2 separate regions of the Homo sapiens genome follow, and region 2 is linked to region 1. Evidence: fine-mapped expression QTL. Tissue or cell type: atrial appendage. Region 1 holds a variant in brackets; the other region holds the start of a gene. All regions are shown on one strand. Distances are between the middles of the regions.

Region 1 (8,000 bases):
AACACAAACACCTGTGACCACGAACCCACGTGGCAGTGTGCACTCACACATGTGTGACCAGGAACCCACATGGCAGTGTGCACTCACACCTGTGATCATGAACCCACATGGCAGTGTGCACTCACACCTGTGGCCACAAACCCACATGGCAGTGTGCACTCACACCTGTGGCCACGAACCCTCATGGCAGTGTGCACTCACACCTGTGTGACCACAAACCCACATGGCAGTGTGCACTCACACCTGTGTGACCACAAACCCACATGGCAGTGTGCACTCACACCTGTGATCATGAAACCACATGGCAGTGTGCACTCACACCTGTGATCATGAAACCACATGGCAGTGTGCACTCACAACTGTGACCATGAACCCACATGGCAGTGTGCACTCACACCTCTGACCACCAACCCACATGGCAGTGTGCACTGACACGTGTGATCACGAACCCACGGGGCAATGTGCACTCATATGTAGTCATCCGGGTGGACCAGCATCAAGCATTTAAGTTATCAGTGACATGAAACTCCCAAAACTATTCTTGTAAGGGAATTGAAGGTGTTGAAAATATGCCTGAGGCCCTCGGGGAGCCCAGGTTAGAAACCCTGAGTTAGGCAGATGTAGCACACAGGCCTTCTAGAATGAATTAGGCGCACAGTGGCTTTTCCACGGCGTTAAAGGGTTCCGTTTACAAATGTAAACAATTGTCCTTACGGTTACATAGCTGTGCCCTGCAGATTATGTGTGCGTAAGACACAGCTGTCTTTTCAACATCTCGATTCCTGAGCTAACTTCAAATGGGCCACTGTAACGCTTCCCGGCAAGCATGCTGCACCCCTGGGCCCACGCTCCCCTCCCACCTCCTCCCCTCTCCTCAGACCCCTATCTTCCTCCCCCACTCCCCTCAGAGCTGGTGCATCCTTTTAAGCTAAGAACTTCCTCCACCCCCACAGCACATCTGCCCCTCCCCCAGGCTCCAGGGCATCGGTCAGGCATCCCGTCAGCTCTGCGTCCTCCCTGCTTACATCTTAAACTCTCTTCATCTCACTCCTTTTTCAAATGCCATCTTATTTCCCTCCTTCCCTTGACAGCAAAGGCCCCGAAGCCTCTGAAGAGCAGTCTCTCCCCTTTCCACTCACACACTTCCTGTCCTCTCGCAAAGCCCACTCAAGGCAGGCTTGCAGCCCAAACTGCCCTTGTCAAGGTCACCTTGCTCTGCCAAGTCAGCTGTCAGCTCTGTGGTACTCAATCACCAGAGCATAGGACCCAGGTGCTCACCCTCCCTTCTTTGAAACACTCCCTCCAGGGCCTCCAGGGGCCTCGTGCACCTGGTCTTCTCCCCACTCTTGCCCCATCTTCCTCCTCATGGGCCGGCCTGTACTGTGGGTGTGCCCGACTCACGCTTGCACCTCGTGGATCACATCCAAGTTCATACCTCTAGCCCAGGCCTCCCCCGAACCCCCTGAGTCACAGCCAACTACAGTTGTGTTACAGGAAGGGGGTCCTGATGCAAACCCCAAGAGAGGGTTCTTGGATCTCATGCAAGAAAGAATTCAGGGTGAGTCCGTAAAGTGAAAGCAAGTTTATTAAGAAAGTAGAGGAATAGGCCAGGCGTGGTGGCTCACGCCTGTCATCCCAGCACTCTGGGAGGCCGAGGCAGGCGAATCACGACGTCAGGAGTTCAAGACCAGCCTGGCCAACATGGTGAAACCCCGTCTCTACTAAAAATACAAAAAATTGGCCAGGCGCAGTGGTTCACGCCTGTAATCCCAGCACTTTGGGAGGCCGAGGTGGGTGGATCACCTGAGGTCAGGGGTTCGAGACCAGCCTGGCCAACATGGTGAAACCCCATCTCTACTAAAAATACAAAAATTAGGTCGGGGGCAGTGGCTCATGCCTGTAATCCCAGCACTTTGGGAGACCGAGGCGGGCAGTTCACCTGAGGTCAGGAGTGTGAAACCAGCCTGGCCAACATGTTGAAATCCGTTTCTACTAAAAATACAAAAAATTAGCTGGGCATGGTGGCATGCACCTGTAGTCCCAGCTACTCGGGACGCTGAGGCAGGAGAATCGCTTGAACCTGGGAGGTGGAAGTTGCCATGAACCGAGATCGCGCCACTGCACTCCAGCTTGGCCAACAGAGTGAGACTCCGTCTCAAAAAAACAAGAAAAAAAAGAAAAATTAGCCAGGTATGGTGGCGGGCACCTGTAATCCCAGCTACTTGGGGGGCTGAGGCAGGAGAATCACTTAAACCTGGGAGGTGGATGTTGCAGTGAGCCAAGATCACGCCACTGCACTCCAGCCTGGGCGACACAGCGAGACTCCGTCTCAAAAAAAAAAAAAAATGTCGTGGAATAAAATAATGGCTACTCTATAGACAGAGCAGCCCCAAGGGCTGCTGGTTGCCTATTTTTATGGTTATTTCTTGATGATCTACTAAACAAGGGATGGATTATTCATGCCTCCCCTTTTTAGACCATATAGGGTAACTTCCTGACATTGCCATGGCATCTGTAAACTGTCGTGGCGCTGATAGGATTGGAGCAGTGAGGACAACCAGAGGTCACTGTTGTGGTCATCTTGGTTTTGGTGGGTTTTAGCCAGCTTCTTTAGTGCAACCTGTTTTATCAGCAAGGTCTTCAGGACCTGTATCTTGTGCTGACCCCTATCTCATCCTGTGACTTAGAGTGCCTTAACTGTCTGGGAATGCAGCTCAGGAGGTTTCAGCCTCATTTTACACAGCTCCTATTCAACATGGAGTCGCTCTGGTTCACAGGCCTCCAACAGTTGGACCTCTCCATTTGGGGACATCAAACTCAGCCTGTCAAACCGACCTCCTCTCCCTCCACGTTCCCCATCTTGCTTCTTTGCAGCTCCATCCTTCCTCTGGTTGCTCAGGTTAAGCCCCTTGGCTCCACAAATGGCCAAGAAGCACATGAAAAGATGCTCACCATCATTAGTCATTAGGGACTGCAAATCTAACCTGCAATGAGATACCACCGCCCACCCTCCAGGATGGCTATAATTTAAAAAAACACACACAGACAATAGCAAGTGTTGGCGGGGATATGGAAAAAGAGGAACCCTTGTACCTTGCTGATGGGAATGTCAAATGGTACTGCTGCTGTGGAGAACAGCTTGGCCGTTCCTCGCAAAGTTAAGCATGGAATTACTATACCATCCTACAGTTTTACTCCTGTGTATACATACCCCAAAGAATTGAAAACAGGTGTTCAGGCCAGGCACAGTGGCTCAAGCCTGTAACCCCAGCACTTTGGGAGGCTGAGGTAGGGCAATCACTTGAGCCTAGGGGTTCGAGACCAGCCTGGGCAACATGGCAAAACTCTGTCTGTACAAAAAATTAAAAAACTAGCCAGGTGTGTTGGCACATGTCCATGGTTTCAGCTCTCAAGAGGCTGAGGTAAAAGAATCACCTGGGGGCTGGGCTCGATGGCTCACGCCTGTAATCCCAGCACTTTGGGAGGCTGAAGTGGCCGGTCACCTGAGGTCAGGAGTTCAAGACCAGCCTGACCAACCTAGAGAAACCCCCGTCTCTACTAAAAATACAAAATTAGCCGGGAGTGGTGGCACATGCCTGTAATCCCAGCTACTCGGGAGGCTGAAGCAGAAGAATCGCTTGAACCTGGGAGGCGGAGGTTGTGATGAGCCAAGATCGTGCCATTGCACTCCAGCCTGGGCAACAGGAGCGAAACTCAAAAAAAAAAAAAAAAAAGAATCACTTGGGTCGGGAGGTGGAGGCTG[C/T]AGTGAGCTGAGATCATGCTACTGCACCCCAGCCTGTGCAACAGAAAGAGACCCTGTCTCAAAATAAATAAATAAGTAAATAAAAGGGAAAAAAACAGGTGTTCAAAGAGAAACTTGTACATGAATGTTCACAGCAGCACTATTCACAGTAGCTAAAACATGGAAACAACACCCATCTCCATGGATAGATGAATGACTAAACAAATGTGGTCTAGCCATACAGTGGAATATTATTCAGCCTTAAAAAGGAAGGAAATTGACACATGCTACCACATAGCTGAAATTTGAAGACATTATGCTAAGTGATTTACCAGAATAGGTAAATCCATAGAGACAGAAAGCAGATTCATGCTTGTCAGGGGCTCCGGGAGGGGGAAGAAGGAGTGACTGTTTAATGCATACAAAGTTTTCCTTTCAGGCTGATGGAAATGTTTGGGGATGAGACAGAGGCGATGATGGAACAACACTGTGAAGGTACTAAATACCTCTGAATACACTCTAAAATGGTTAAATTAACATTATGTGAATTTTACCCGAATAAATAAACCAACTAATCAGCCTTGGCTCTTCCTTGGCTTCTCTCCCACTCCCATACATCCCACCTGTCAGTCAATCCCATCAGCTTTGCACTCAAAATATATACAAATATACCCAGAATCTAGGTTGGGTGCGGTGGCTCACACCTGTAATCCCAACATTTTAGGAGGCTGAGGCGGGCGGATCACCTGAGGTCAGGAGTTGGAGACCAGCCTGGCCAAGGTGGTGAAACCCTGTCTCTACTAAAAATACAAAAATTAGCAGAGCATGGTGGCAAGCGCCTATAATCCCAGATACTTGGGAGCCTGAGGCAAGAGAACTGCTTGAACTCGGGAGGCGAAGGTTGCAGTGAGCCGAGATCTTGCACTCCAGCCTGGGTGACAGAGCAAGACTCCGTCTCAAAAATAAATAAATAAAAATTTAAAAATTAAAAAAAAAAGACACACACACACACACACACACAATTTGTCACTTACCACCACCTCGCTGCCTCCATGCCAGTCTTAGCCACTGTCACCTCCCAACAGAGGACAGCAGGAGCCTGCTGACCAGCCTCCCAGTCCAGTTCCGACCCTCAGAGGCCTGCGTTCCTCGAGGCAGCCAGGGGGATCCTGTTAAATCGAAAGTCAGGTCCCATCTCCCGCCCTGCCCCTGCTTTAAACCTCCCCAAGCAGCATCGCATCGTGGTCAAAGCCAAAGTCCTTCCTACAACCCACCAGGCCACTGTGTTCCCCCACCTTGTCCCCACTGTGATCCTGGGTTCTCTCTCTCTCTCTGGCCACCCACTGGCCTCCTGCTGCCCCCACATACCTGCTACCCCCAGCTCTTTGTTGGATCTCCTGTCCTGACATCTGTGGGCTTACTGCTCACTTCCTCATGCCTTTAGGCCTCCTTGGCTGGTCCTTCCTGAAGTTTCAGCTCCATCCCAACACTCCCACCCCTTCCTTGATGTAGTCTTGCCTAGCATATGGCATATTTTATTCCTTAGGCTTGTATCTATGGACTGACTCCTACCCCAAAATATAAGCTCCATGAGGGTGGGACTTTTCCCTTTTTTGTTCCTTGCTATGTCCTCATTGTGTGGGACAGTGCCCAGCATAGAGAACATGCCTAAGAAATATCTGACAAATGAATGGATTCCAATTCACCTAAGCCCATGTATTTGTATTTGCTTTGCAGAGGTGGGTGTGCATGTGTGCGTGTGTGTACACATGCATGTGTCAGACAGGCATCCATCCTATCCAGGAGATAGGAAACCAAGAATGCAAAGACAACTCAGCAGATCTGCTGGCATGGAGGCGAGGCTGCATGGAAGGATCTGGATTGGATAGGAGTGTCCCATTCAGGACATGTGTCACTCAAAACCACACAACTCAGACTTGGGGAATATTCTATGCCAGTCACATCTGTTTACAACACGTGTGGCATCTCCTGTGGACGGAGTTGACAGTCTCATCCTGAGATAGGCAGAGCCTGGCGTGGAAGTGAGAGCCTTCATCTGGGATGAGACAGCAGGAGGCAGGGAGGGGACACACTGGGGGACATCACGTGGGGCCAGGCAGTGTCCACCCAGCTCTGGCACAGCCTGAGAGTCATCACTTCCTCAGTTTTCACACCCTGGGCACCTCCACCTCGCCTGCCTCCCCCGACCCCGGCCCCATGGCCAGACCTTTCTTCCACATAATTCCCAGGAGTGCTATATGCATGAACCAAGCTAAGGTGTCAATCTCGTTTCAGAACCACAGCACGGCTCCCCATAAAAGTCATCTTTATGGACAGATATTTCATGGCGGCAGCTTGAGAAGGCTCACGTTTCTTAGGCAGCTGGTGCAGAGCCAGGAGAGCTAATCATGAGATCTTCCAGTCCCAGGACGTGGGCTGCAGCTGGCGGCTGTGGTCGTCTTATATCAAACTCTCAAGAGTCACAGGGCAGCAGCATTGGCCCCCTCCCAAGTCATTCCAGATGGGATTTAAGGTGGCTTAATGAGCATTCATAAAATACAGCAAGAGAACATAAACTGAAAAGGGTGTGCAAGAAGAAATCAAATGGGAACTACATGAAATGAGCCAGAGACAGGAGGGAGGGGGAAGAAGAGGGAGGGGGAAGAACAGGCGGGAGGGGGATGAACAGGGAGGGGCCCCCTAAGCCACTGGAAAGTGTGGCAAGACTTCCCGGAGCCGGACAGAGCAGATTCTTGAGGGGTGCGCAGGAGTCTCGTAGGCCAGGATGGAGAGGAAGGGCCTGTAGGCAGAAGACTGGTGTGTGCAAAGGAACCAGAGAGAGAAGGAGGCGGGGAGGGGAGAGGGGGTGCCGGGAGGAGGGAGAGGAAGCTCAGTAGTTGTGGGGGATAGCGAGGGGGATTGGGGAATGAACTGTTTCCCGCAAATGCCTCAGCCATAGTTGAAAGGATTCCCACTCCCTTCCCCACTCACAAAGTCCTGGTGCCCTTGGCCCGGCTGCGCAGGCCCTCATTCCCTGAGCTCCCAAGAGGTGCAGTGATTTATCCGATGCGAAGCGCGAAGCTCGGGAGTCCGACTGCACCCGGAGGTGGTGGGGGCGGGGGGACGGAGGGGCGGAGGGGCAAGAGTACTACAAGAAAAGGCCGGGGCCTGCTCTCTGCTCTCTCCTCTCTCTGGACCTGCCTGAGCCCCAGGGGCACGGTCTGCACCATCTGCCTGTGAACAGGAGCGCTTAATTCAGAGTGGCCGGCAGAGACCCTGGGTCCGATGATCCAGAAGTCTGACATCGAGCTTCTGCTCATTAGCCGCAACCCTCCCCTGGGTCCTGGAATCTGTTCTCAGGTGACCGTGGAGGAGGCGATGCTGAGTGATCAACACCTCGGATCTCCAGCTGTCGGTGCAATGACCAAGAAGGCCTTGGTGAATGTTAAAGAAACAATTATTCCATGACATTGGTAAAGCATGGCCGAGCCAACTTTATCCAGGACCGTGGAGATTGATACAGGGACCCCCACAATAAGATCTTGCGGTAGGGGAGAGAGATTAGGCTCCACTCTGAATATAGCACAGGCAAGTAGGAATTTATGGCCAAGGAGTGTGGGGGTCAGTGGATGGAAAATTACCAAGGGGTAGGGGAGATTCTGCTTAACCCGACCTAACAGGATTCTTGCTGACACAGGCCAGGGTTCTTTCGCTAAAACTGGATTTTTTTTTTTTTTTTTTTGAGACGGAATCTCACTCTGTGGCCCAGGCTGAAGTGCAGGGGCATGATCTCAGCTCACTGCAACCTCCATCTCCCGGGTTCAAGTGATTCTCCTGCCTCAGCCTCCCAAGTAGCTGGGATTACAGGCATGCACCACCACGCCCAGCCAACTTTTGTATTTTTTTGGTGGAGACAGGGTTTCACCATGTTGCAAGCTGGTCTCGAACTTCTGACCTCAAGTGATCCGCCCACCTCAGCCTCTTAGAGTGCTGGGATTACAGGCGTGAGCCACCGCGCCTGGCCTAGAACTGCATTTTACAAGGAAGTGCACAGATGGGCCTAGCAGAAGATTCAGAAGCCTGACTAAAGTTTGGCCGAGCAAAGAATCTTTATCTGTAACTCTCATTCAATGACCAAGACGCCCTTTAGGAGCTCTTGGAAGAGCCCTCATGATGGGGTGAGTGTCCTTATATGGAGAGATCGGGGCCAGGCGAGGTGGCTCACACCTGTAATCCCAACACTTTGGGAGGCCATGGT
Region 2 (8,000 bases), 130 kb after region 1:
GGAGGAAGACAGGCTTAGAACAGAACCCCTGTGACCTAGACCTTCGGGGCCCAGGACAAAGTACATCTCTAGGCAAGAGGTGGAGGCTTTAGCAATAGGAACCCAGGGGACCTCACCTAGTACAGATGGGGAAGCAAAGGCCATGGCAGGGGTGGAAGGCAAGACCCGGCTATCTCGGTCCCCCATAGCTTGATGGAGCCAGCGGGGTGGGCGGGTAGGGCAGGGGTACTGAGGCAGTGCCACGGCTCCTACCTGGTGCTCTCACCCCGGCTGTGCTCCCAGGAGCAGCCCTCATCTTCACAGTGCCCAGCCCGGTCAAAGAAGTAGGACCGAGAGGCAAAGACCTGCCCATTGAGGATGTGGCTGGTGCTCTGGGGGAGGAAGCCATCATCGATACTTACTCCTGTCCTGCACTGGCCTCCCAGGCCCAACCCCAGACTCCAACCCAGGATTTGCAACATCCGCCCCCTCCACTGGCCCCACAGAAGAGGGAGCAGACCCTTACCAGGTCCTGTGGGGGCCGGTGCACCCGGAAGAAGCCCACCAGCAGGGTGGTGGGCAGTAGCTCCCACACGAAGAGGATGAGGCCAAATACCAGGTAGCCTTTGTTCCCCAGGTCATTCACCAGGTCCGCCTGTGGGAAGGCAGGGGCTGGTGCCAGTCTGCAGTCACGCCAAAGGGGTAGTGGGACAGGGCCCAGGCCAGCTGGGGCCAAGGTGCCACGGCTACTAAGGAGGTGGCAGACATGCGTATGCCCACCTGGTCAGACACATTGTACCAGTCGTAATCGAAGGTGTCCAGCCGGCTCTGGGGGGCCAAGGCCAGTGCTGTCAGGTTGTAGCAGGCCCGGCTGGCATAGAGCAGGACCATGGCGCCACCCATCGCGGCCGCCTGGCACACACTGGTCCCCTGGCACAGGTAACAACAGAGGACCCTCAGGGAGAGAAGGCTCCCAGCTTCCTCTACACCCTGAGAACCGCTGCCGAGAGACCCAAAAGACACCTGGGCATCAGTGCTGCAGCCCTACCTTGGCCTCCAGGTAGATGCTAGTGGAGGGCGCCCGCCTGGCGACGAGGCAGAGGCAGGCAGCAAGAGACAGCGCGCAGATGACGAACAGGGAGTCGCTCACCAGGACGCGGACAAGCAGCAGGGCCCAGGGCTGTGCCCGGCGCCGATGGGAGAGCACAGCACACAGCACGTTCACCAGCAGAAAGAGCAGCGAGGCCCCCACAAAGGCCCCTCGGACAGCGAGCCTGCAGCCACAGCACAGTCAGCGCGGGCCCTCAACAGCCCTCAGCACTCACCACCTGCCCCACCTCCTGCAGGAAACCCCAATGTCGACAAAACTCAGGGCATCCAGTCTGAGCCCTGTTCCTCCACTCTTACAGATGGAGAAACTGAGGCCCAAAAAGGTCAGAAGGTGACTGACAGCCATGGTACTTCGGAAGGTGCACCAACTGGAGTCAGAAGTCTCTGTCTGAGCCCCAGCTCTGCGACCTTGATCCTGCTGTCTTACCTGGCTGGGCCTCAGTTTCTTCATCTCTCAAGGGAGGATAGTAGCCTCTCAGGGAAATTGTACAAATAAAAGATGGCTGGGAAAGCTCTTTATAAACCGTAAGACACTGTACAAATGACGAGGGCATTGCGGCCCCAGGTCACCCAGGAGTGCATATGGCTTTGGTGCTTCCATGGGCTGGAGCCTCCAGCTCGCCCTCCATGGTGGATGACACTGGGGCCCTCTCCCTCACACTACCACAAGCATTCCTATTCCTGTGCCTTGCAGATCTGCAAGGCCTCTGCTGAGCCATCTGCGCCAGGTGCTTTAACTTTTCCAAGATCTTCCACAGACATTCCCTGGGTTGCCTTTGTCTCAGCCCTGAGAGGTGGGAAGGGATCTACATGGGACTGTCACCTGCCCCTGACCTGGAGGCTGAGCCCACCAGTGTCCCGAGTACTTACAAGCCTCGGCTCATCTCCGGCCGACGCTTCACCTTGGCCTTGAACACCACCTAGGAGCAGAGATGCCCTTCACTCCTGTGGGTCCTTGAGGCTTGCCACCTCCCGCCCCCCACCCGGGACCACAGTTGGTTACCTGGGCAAAGTAGAGGTTCATAAGCGTCAAGGTGAAGAACTGCAGGCAGACGGGGCAGCAGTAGAGAAGCCAGAAGGGCAAGGGCCCCAGGCGGTTGGCGCGGGGAGTATCTCGGAAGTAGAAGGAGAAGAGGGTGGTACGCAAGGCGGCCCAGAGCAGACAGAGGGCCAGGAACACCGTCTGATAGCTGAGACGCTTGTGCCCATACAGAAGCACCAGCCAGAGCTGGGCATAGACGGAGAAGAAGAGCAGGGCATACAGGGTGGTGTAGGCAGCTGTCAGCCCCAGGGTCACAGCAGGTGGCAGCGCAGGCACCAGCCCGGCAGCAGGCACCAGGCCAGACAGGTTACTCTCCATGTCAGGGAGGGAGGCCTGAATCCCGGAGACAGACAAGGAGGGACTGTCGGCGGGACCAGGGAAATAAATACGGAGGGGTGGGAATTGCAGGGTGCAGAGAGGGAGATGGGGCGCTCAGGAGGAAAGAAGTTGTGGCTGACAGGCCCCTCCTCCTCAACAGAGAGACCCTTGCCCTTGGGGAACACAGGCAGCCTGGGCCCCAGGCCCCTCACTCAGGGGCATGGAAGGGCAGTCTCTTTTCTCCAGGACAGACCGGATAGGGGTTGGGGGTGTCTCCTCCCTGGGCCTACCCCAGAGCCAAGGATGGGGGGATGCAGAGGCCCAAGGAGAGGACTCCCTGGCCTCGGTCGTTCATGTCGTCCTGGGTGGAGGGGGAGAGCCGGCTGATACCCGTCGGGTCAGGGCAGCGGCCGCTGCGAGGGGCGCCCAATGCCCCGCTCTCCCCCTCCCCAAGCTGGGGGAGGCTCTCTCTCCTCCAATAATGCGGATGGGGAGGGCCTCTGCCTCCTGTCCTCGTAATTCTCGAAAGCTGCCCCCGCCCCACCCTCCCCCACCGCGTCCACGCTCCAGCCTCAAGGGGAGGGAGGAGGCGGACGCCAGGTCCTCAGGCCGCTGATGGGAGAGCCGGCTCAGGTCGTGGGGACCCGGGGCTCCGGCTCCCCGGCTCCCGCTGCTCCGCCCCCCTCCCCCTCCGCGCCTGCGCGGGCGCCGTTCGCTACGCAAATTGCGCAGCGGCCCGGCTGGCTCCGCAGTCCAGCGCCGCACCCGGCGTGAAACCGTACGAGAATTGGCGCGAGCTGCGCCGCTGGCGGGCGCCCGGGGTTACGGGAGGCGGCAGGAGGGCGGCCGAGTTGCGGGGGCCGTGCCGCATCCAGGGGGTCCCCGGGTGGGCCGTGCCCCGTGCCGCCCGCCTTTACTTGTATGGGGGTCCGCCAGTTCCCACGCTCCTCTCTCCTATACCCAAATCGGGGTCGTGCCGCCCGGCCGGGGGCGGCAACGGATTCCCGTCCCTCGGTCTCTGAAGAAAACTTCCGCCCATAGCCAAGATGGCCCCCGGGCCCCGCCCCCGGGCCTGAACCCGCGGAGCCCCGAATCCCCCGCGCGGGCCCGCCCCTCGCCCCGGCGCGCCCGCGGCCCTGCTCACCTGGCCGGCCGCCTGCCAGGCGTGAAGCCCCCACGGGCCCTACGGTCCTCCCTCACCGGGTCCCCGGCCCTCCTCCCGCGCCCGGGCAGCCATCCCAGCCAGGGAGGAGGTTCCTTTCCTTATCTCCAGTGCCCCCGAGATGGCGCGGGAGGTGTCCCCCGAGGCGGGCGGCGCGAAGCTTCCGCGCCTGGGAGGAGGAGCGGGGAGCGGGACTTTCCGACCGGGCACCCAGTCCAGGCGGAGCGGTAACAATAGCAACAATAATCACATCCGACGGCTGAGCTTCAGTTGTGGCTGTGCCAAGCGCCTTCGCCCGCAGTAATCACTCCCTTCACAAAGTTTTCACTGGCTCCCGGGGGAGCTGTCACTATCCCCACTTCACTGGGGGGAAACTAAGGCCCAGAGGGGCTGAAGGACTTGTTGGCAGAAGTGGGTCTCCAGGTTCCAAATGGGGACCCCAGAGAATCCCTCTCCTGCTCCCACACACGCCCAAGGTGTGAGGCAGCGAGGATGTGAGCCCCGGGGCCGAAGGAGGGAGGAAAAAGGATGCGGACGAGGAGCCTTGGATCCGGCGGGGGGGCGGGGCCGGGCCGGGTTGACCCCGCCTCTGGACCTACCCGAGTGACGTTCCGAGAGGTGATTGGGCCAGGTCGCTGACAGTTCCCGTTGCCCAAGCAACTAGGGCCCGGAGCCCGGGGTGCTGGAGGGAGGCGGCAGGCCCGGGTCAGGGGCCTCGAGATCGGGCTTGGGGTGAGACCTGTGCGCCGTCACCACGGGCGGGGCGGGGCCTGGGTCCACCGGGGTTCTGAGGGGAGACTGAGGTCCTGAGCCGACAGCCTCAGCTCCCTGCCAGGCCAGACCCGGCAGACAGATGAGGGCCCAGGAGGCCTGGCGGGCCTGGGGGCGCTACGGTGGGAGAGGAAGCCAGGGGTACCTGCCTCTGCCTTCCAGGGCCACCGTTGGCCCCAGCTGTGCCTTGACTACGTAACATCTTGTCCTCACAGCCCAGAGCATGTTCCAGATCCCAGAGTTTGAGCCGAGTGAGCAGGAAGACTCCAGCTCTGCAGAGAGGGGCCTGGGCCCCAGCCCCGCAGGGGACGGGCCCTCAGGCTCCGGCAAGCATCATCGCCAGGCCCCAGGCCTCCTGTGGGACGCCAGTCACCAGCAGGAGCAGCCAACCAGCAGCAGCCATCATGGAGGTAAGTACCCCACCACCTCCACCTGCCGGGACACCTCACCCCCAGCCCACTGGCTCCCTGCATCCCAGTTGCATCCACAGGCACTGAATGCTTTGGGTCGGTCCCCAAACTCTCAGAGCCCCAGTTTCCTCTTTCGTAAAACAGCAATTAATAACCACCATTGTAGGACTGTTGAGTTAATTAGCAGGAACATATAGGATGCACTTGATTACAGAGCTGGTGCACATTAAAGCTAAAAAATGGTTGCTGCCGGGCGTGGTGGCTCACACCTGTAATCTCAGCACTTTGGGAGGCCAAGGCAGGAGGATCGCTTGAGCCCAGAAGTTCAAGGCCAGCCTGAGTGACTTAGGGAGACTCCAGCTCTTAAAATACATATATATATATATAGCAGCTATTAGTGTGGGGTTAGGACAGAAATCAGTGACAGGCAGGCAGTGATCCGAAAAGGAAAAGGGGCCTGCCTAAGGCCACACCTTCCTGGTGTTTCTTTCCTTAGAATGTGGGGGCTGGAAGCCTCCTTGGTGCCCTGCCCCAGGCTACATGCTTTCCCTGGGATTAGGCCTTCCAGCTCCCAGATGTGTTCTTTCTTGCCCTGTGGCTCGTACCCACAGCAGGACTGTCCTGGCACAGTGGCCAGGGGCAGATGACCTCAAGGGGCAGACAGTCCTCCCAGACAGCAGGGCTGTGTGGGGTGAGAAGCACAGGCTCCAAGATGGAAGGATGGACACTGGGGTTCTATGTCCATTTCTCAGTAGGCTCTAGCACCCCTGTGCCCAGCACTGGCCTTGGCACCTGGAACAACAACAGATATCTTCTGAACACAAAAACCAGGTCAAGCTGGGTGGGGTGGCACATGTCTGTAGTCCCAGCAACTCAGGAGGCTGGCTTGAGCCCAGGAATTCAAGACCAGCCTGGGCAACATAGCCAGACCCCATCTCTAAAAATAGAAAACTAGGTCATGTCACTCTGGCACTGCAGCTTAAAAGACCTCCTCCCCATTTTCAGGATTAAGAAGGCTTAAGAGGCCTCTTTCCCCTCGCTCTCTTACGGATAAACACCCACACTCGATTCTCTCAGATTGGACCCCATAGCTTGCTTTCTTTTTTTCTGTTTGTTTTGTTTTGTTTTGAGACAGGGTCTCGCTCTATCACCCAGGAGGGAGTACAGAGGTGCGATCTCAGCTCACTGCAGCCCGGAACTTCTGGGCTTAAGTGATCCTCCCACGTAACTGGGAATACAGGTGTGTGGACCACACCCAGTTAATTTATTTTTTACTTTTTCTTTTTTTTTTTTTTTTTTTCCTGAGACGGAGTCTCACTCTGCTGCCCAGGCTGGGGTGCAGTGGTGCAATCTCGGCTCACTGCAACCTCTGCCTCCTGGGTTCAAGCAGTTCTCCTGCCTCAGCCTCCAGAGTAGCTGGGACTACAGGCGCGTGTCACCATGCCGGGCTAATTTCTTGTATTTTTATTAGAGATGGGGTTTCACCGTGTTAGCCAGGGTGGTCTCCATTTCCTGACCTCGTAATCCACCCGCCTCAGCCTCCCAACAGTGTTGGGATTACAGGCGTGAGCCACCATGCCCAGCATTTTTCACATTTTCATGAGATGAGGGCAGGGGCGGGGTCTCCTTTTGTTGCCCAGGCAGGCCTCAAACTCCTGGGCTCAAACGATCCTCCTGCCTCAGCCTCCAGAACAGCTGGGACCACAGGTGCATGCCACCACACCAGCTCATTTTTTATTTTTTGTAGAGGTGGGGTCTTGCTTTGTTGCCCAGTCTTGTCTCGAATTCCTGGGCCCAAGCAATCCTCTCACCTTGGCCTCCCAGACTGTTGAGATTACTGGCGTGAGCCACCATGCTCAGCCTCCACAGCTTTCTTTAACTTCCTGAGCTTGCACTTGGCCATTTTTCTGCTCACAAACTTCCCCTGCTCTCTGCCCCCCACACACACTCAGCATTCACTCGCGCCACACAGTGAGTGCTCACCGTGTGACACAGGCTGTTCCAGTTGCTAGGGGGCCTCGGTGAACCCAAGCGTCAGGAATCCTTGCCCTTGTGGAGCTTACCTTCTAGTGAGCTGGTGGGGCCATGAGCAAACAAGCACAAAAGCATCCTATCATGCGTGAGAAGATTTGTATGGGGGCAGCATGTAAAAGAGTTAAGAGAGGCCGGGCGCGGTGGCTCACGCCTGTAATTCCAACACTTTGGGAGGCCTAGGTGGGCGTATCACAAGGTGAAGAGATGGAGACCATCCTGGCCAACATGGTGAAACCCCATCTCTACCAAAAATACAAAAATTAGCTGGGCATGGTGGCGCGCACCTATAGTCCCAGCTACTCGGGAGGCTGAGGCAGGAGAATCGCTTGAACCCGGGAGGCGGAGGTTGCAGTGAGCCAAGATCGTGCCACTGCACTCCAGCCTGGCGACAGAGTGAGACTCATCTCAAAAAAAAGAGTTAAGAGAATCCGGAGTCACAGGGGCGGGGGGAGTGATGGTAGCAGAGGTGGTCAGCACTCACCTTGGTGAGAAGCACCACTGGAGCCAAGGCCACAGGGATGATGGGAAGAGAGTTCCAGGCAGAGAGAAGGGCAGATGGTAAGGCCTCGAGGGCAACACCTGCTCCTGGCTAGGGTGGGCCTAGGGGAGGGGGTTTAGGAAAGGGTATTTGGAGACCTAAAGTTGAAGGTCATTCTAAGGACTCTGGCATTGCCTTTGAGTAAAAACCTGGAAAGGATTTGAGCAGAGGCAGCATGGTCAGATTTAGACATTCAGAGAGTCACCAGGGAGGTGGTGAGAAGTAGCTGATCCCTGGATTTATTTTTAAAGCAGAACTGGCAGGATCTGCTGATGGACTGGATGTGGGGTGCGAGGGAAAGAGAGGAGTCAGGATGATGCCAAGGAATTTTAAAAAAACTATTAGGCTGGGCGCGGTGGCTCACGCCTATAATCCCAGCACTTTGGTAGTTCGAGGTGGGCAGATCATGAGGTCAGGAGATAGAGACCATTCTGGCTAACACGGTGAACCCCGTCTCCACTAAAAATACAAAAAATTCTCTGGGCGTGGTGGTGGGCGCCTGTAGTCCCAGCTACTCTGGAGGCTGAGGCAGGAGAATGGCGTGAGCCCGGGAGGCGGAGCTTGCAGTGAGCAGAGATTGCACCACTGCACTCCAGCCTGGGTGACAGAGCAAGATTCCGTCTCAAAAAAAAAATT

Alleles and levels. Positions count from the first base shown, and alleles are read on the strand shown. Sizes are in standard deviations (SD) of each study's normalised expression.
For the expression in atrial appendage of the gene that starts at base 4,309 in region 2, allele T in region 1 goes with a lower level than allele C (large effect, 0.82 SD a copy in GTEx).

What was found. PIP is the estimated chance that this variant, and not a neighbour inherited with it, causes the effect.
Region 2: BAD starts here. The variant in region 1 is fine-mapped to the expression of BAD in atrial appendage (GTEx, PIP above 0.99).

What each region holds. Positions count from the first base shown.
Region 1 is chr11:64,408,397-64,416,396 of GRCh38, reverse strand. LOC105369341 (a long non-coding RNA gene) reads left to right here. Exons shown (of 4, transcript XR_001748069.2): 3 at 4,182-4,237; 4 at 5,480-6,319. Among named protein-coding and RNA genes, the nearest start is that of LINC02723, 17 kb to the right of the region's middle. RefSeq lists enhancers at 1-200, 201-701. The variant C/T (reference allele first, on the strand shown) is at 3,764.
Region 2 is chr11:64,280,974-64,288,973 of GRCh38, reverse strand. It overlaps BAD (BCL2 associated agonist of cell death), which reads left to right and starts at 4,309. Exons shown (of 4, transcript NM_032989.3): 1 at 4,309-4,343; 2 at 4,598-4,792. The coding sequence starts at 4,606. GPR137 (G protein-coupled receptor 137) reads right to left here and starts at 3,126. Exons shown (of 7, transcript NM_001170880.2): 1 at 2,093-3,126; 2 at 1,960-2,009; 3 at 1,028-1,253; 4 at 760-909; 5 at 506-634; 6 at 253-371. The coding sequence starts at 2,449. RefSeq lists silencers at 3,050-3,789, 4,140-4,429.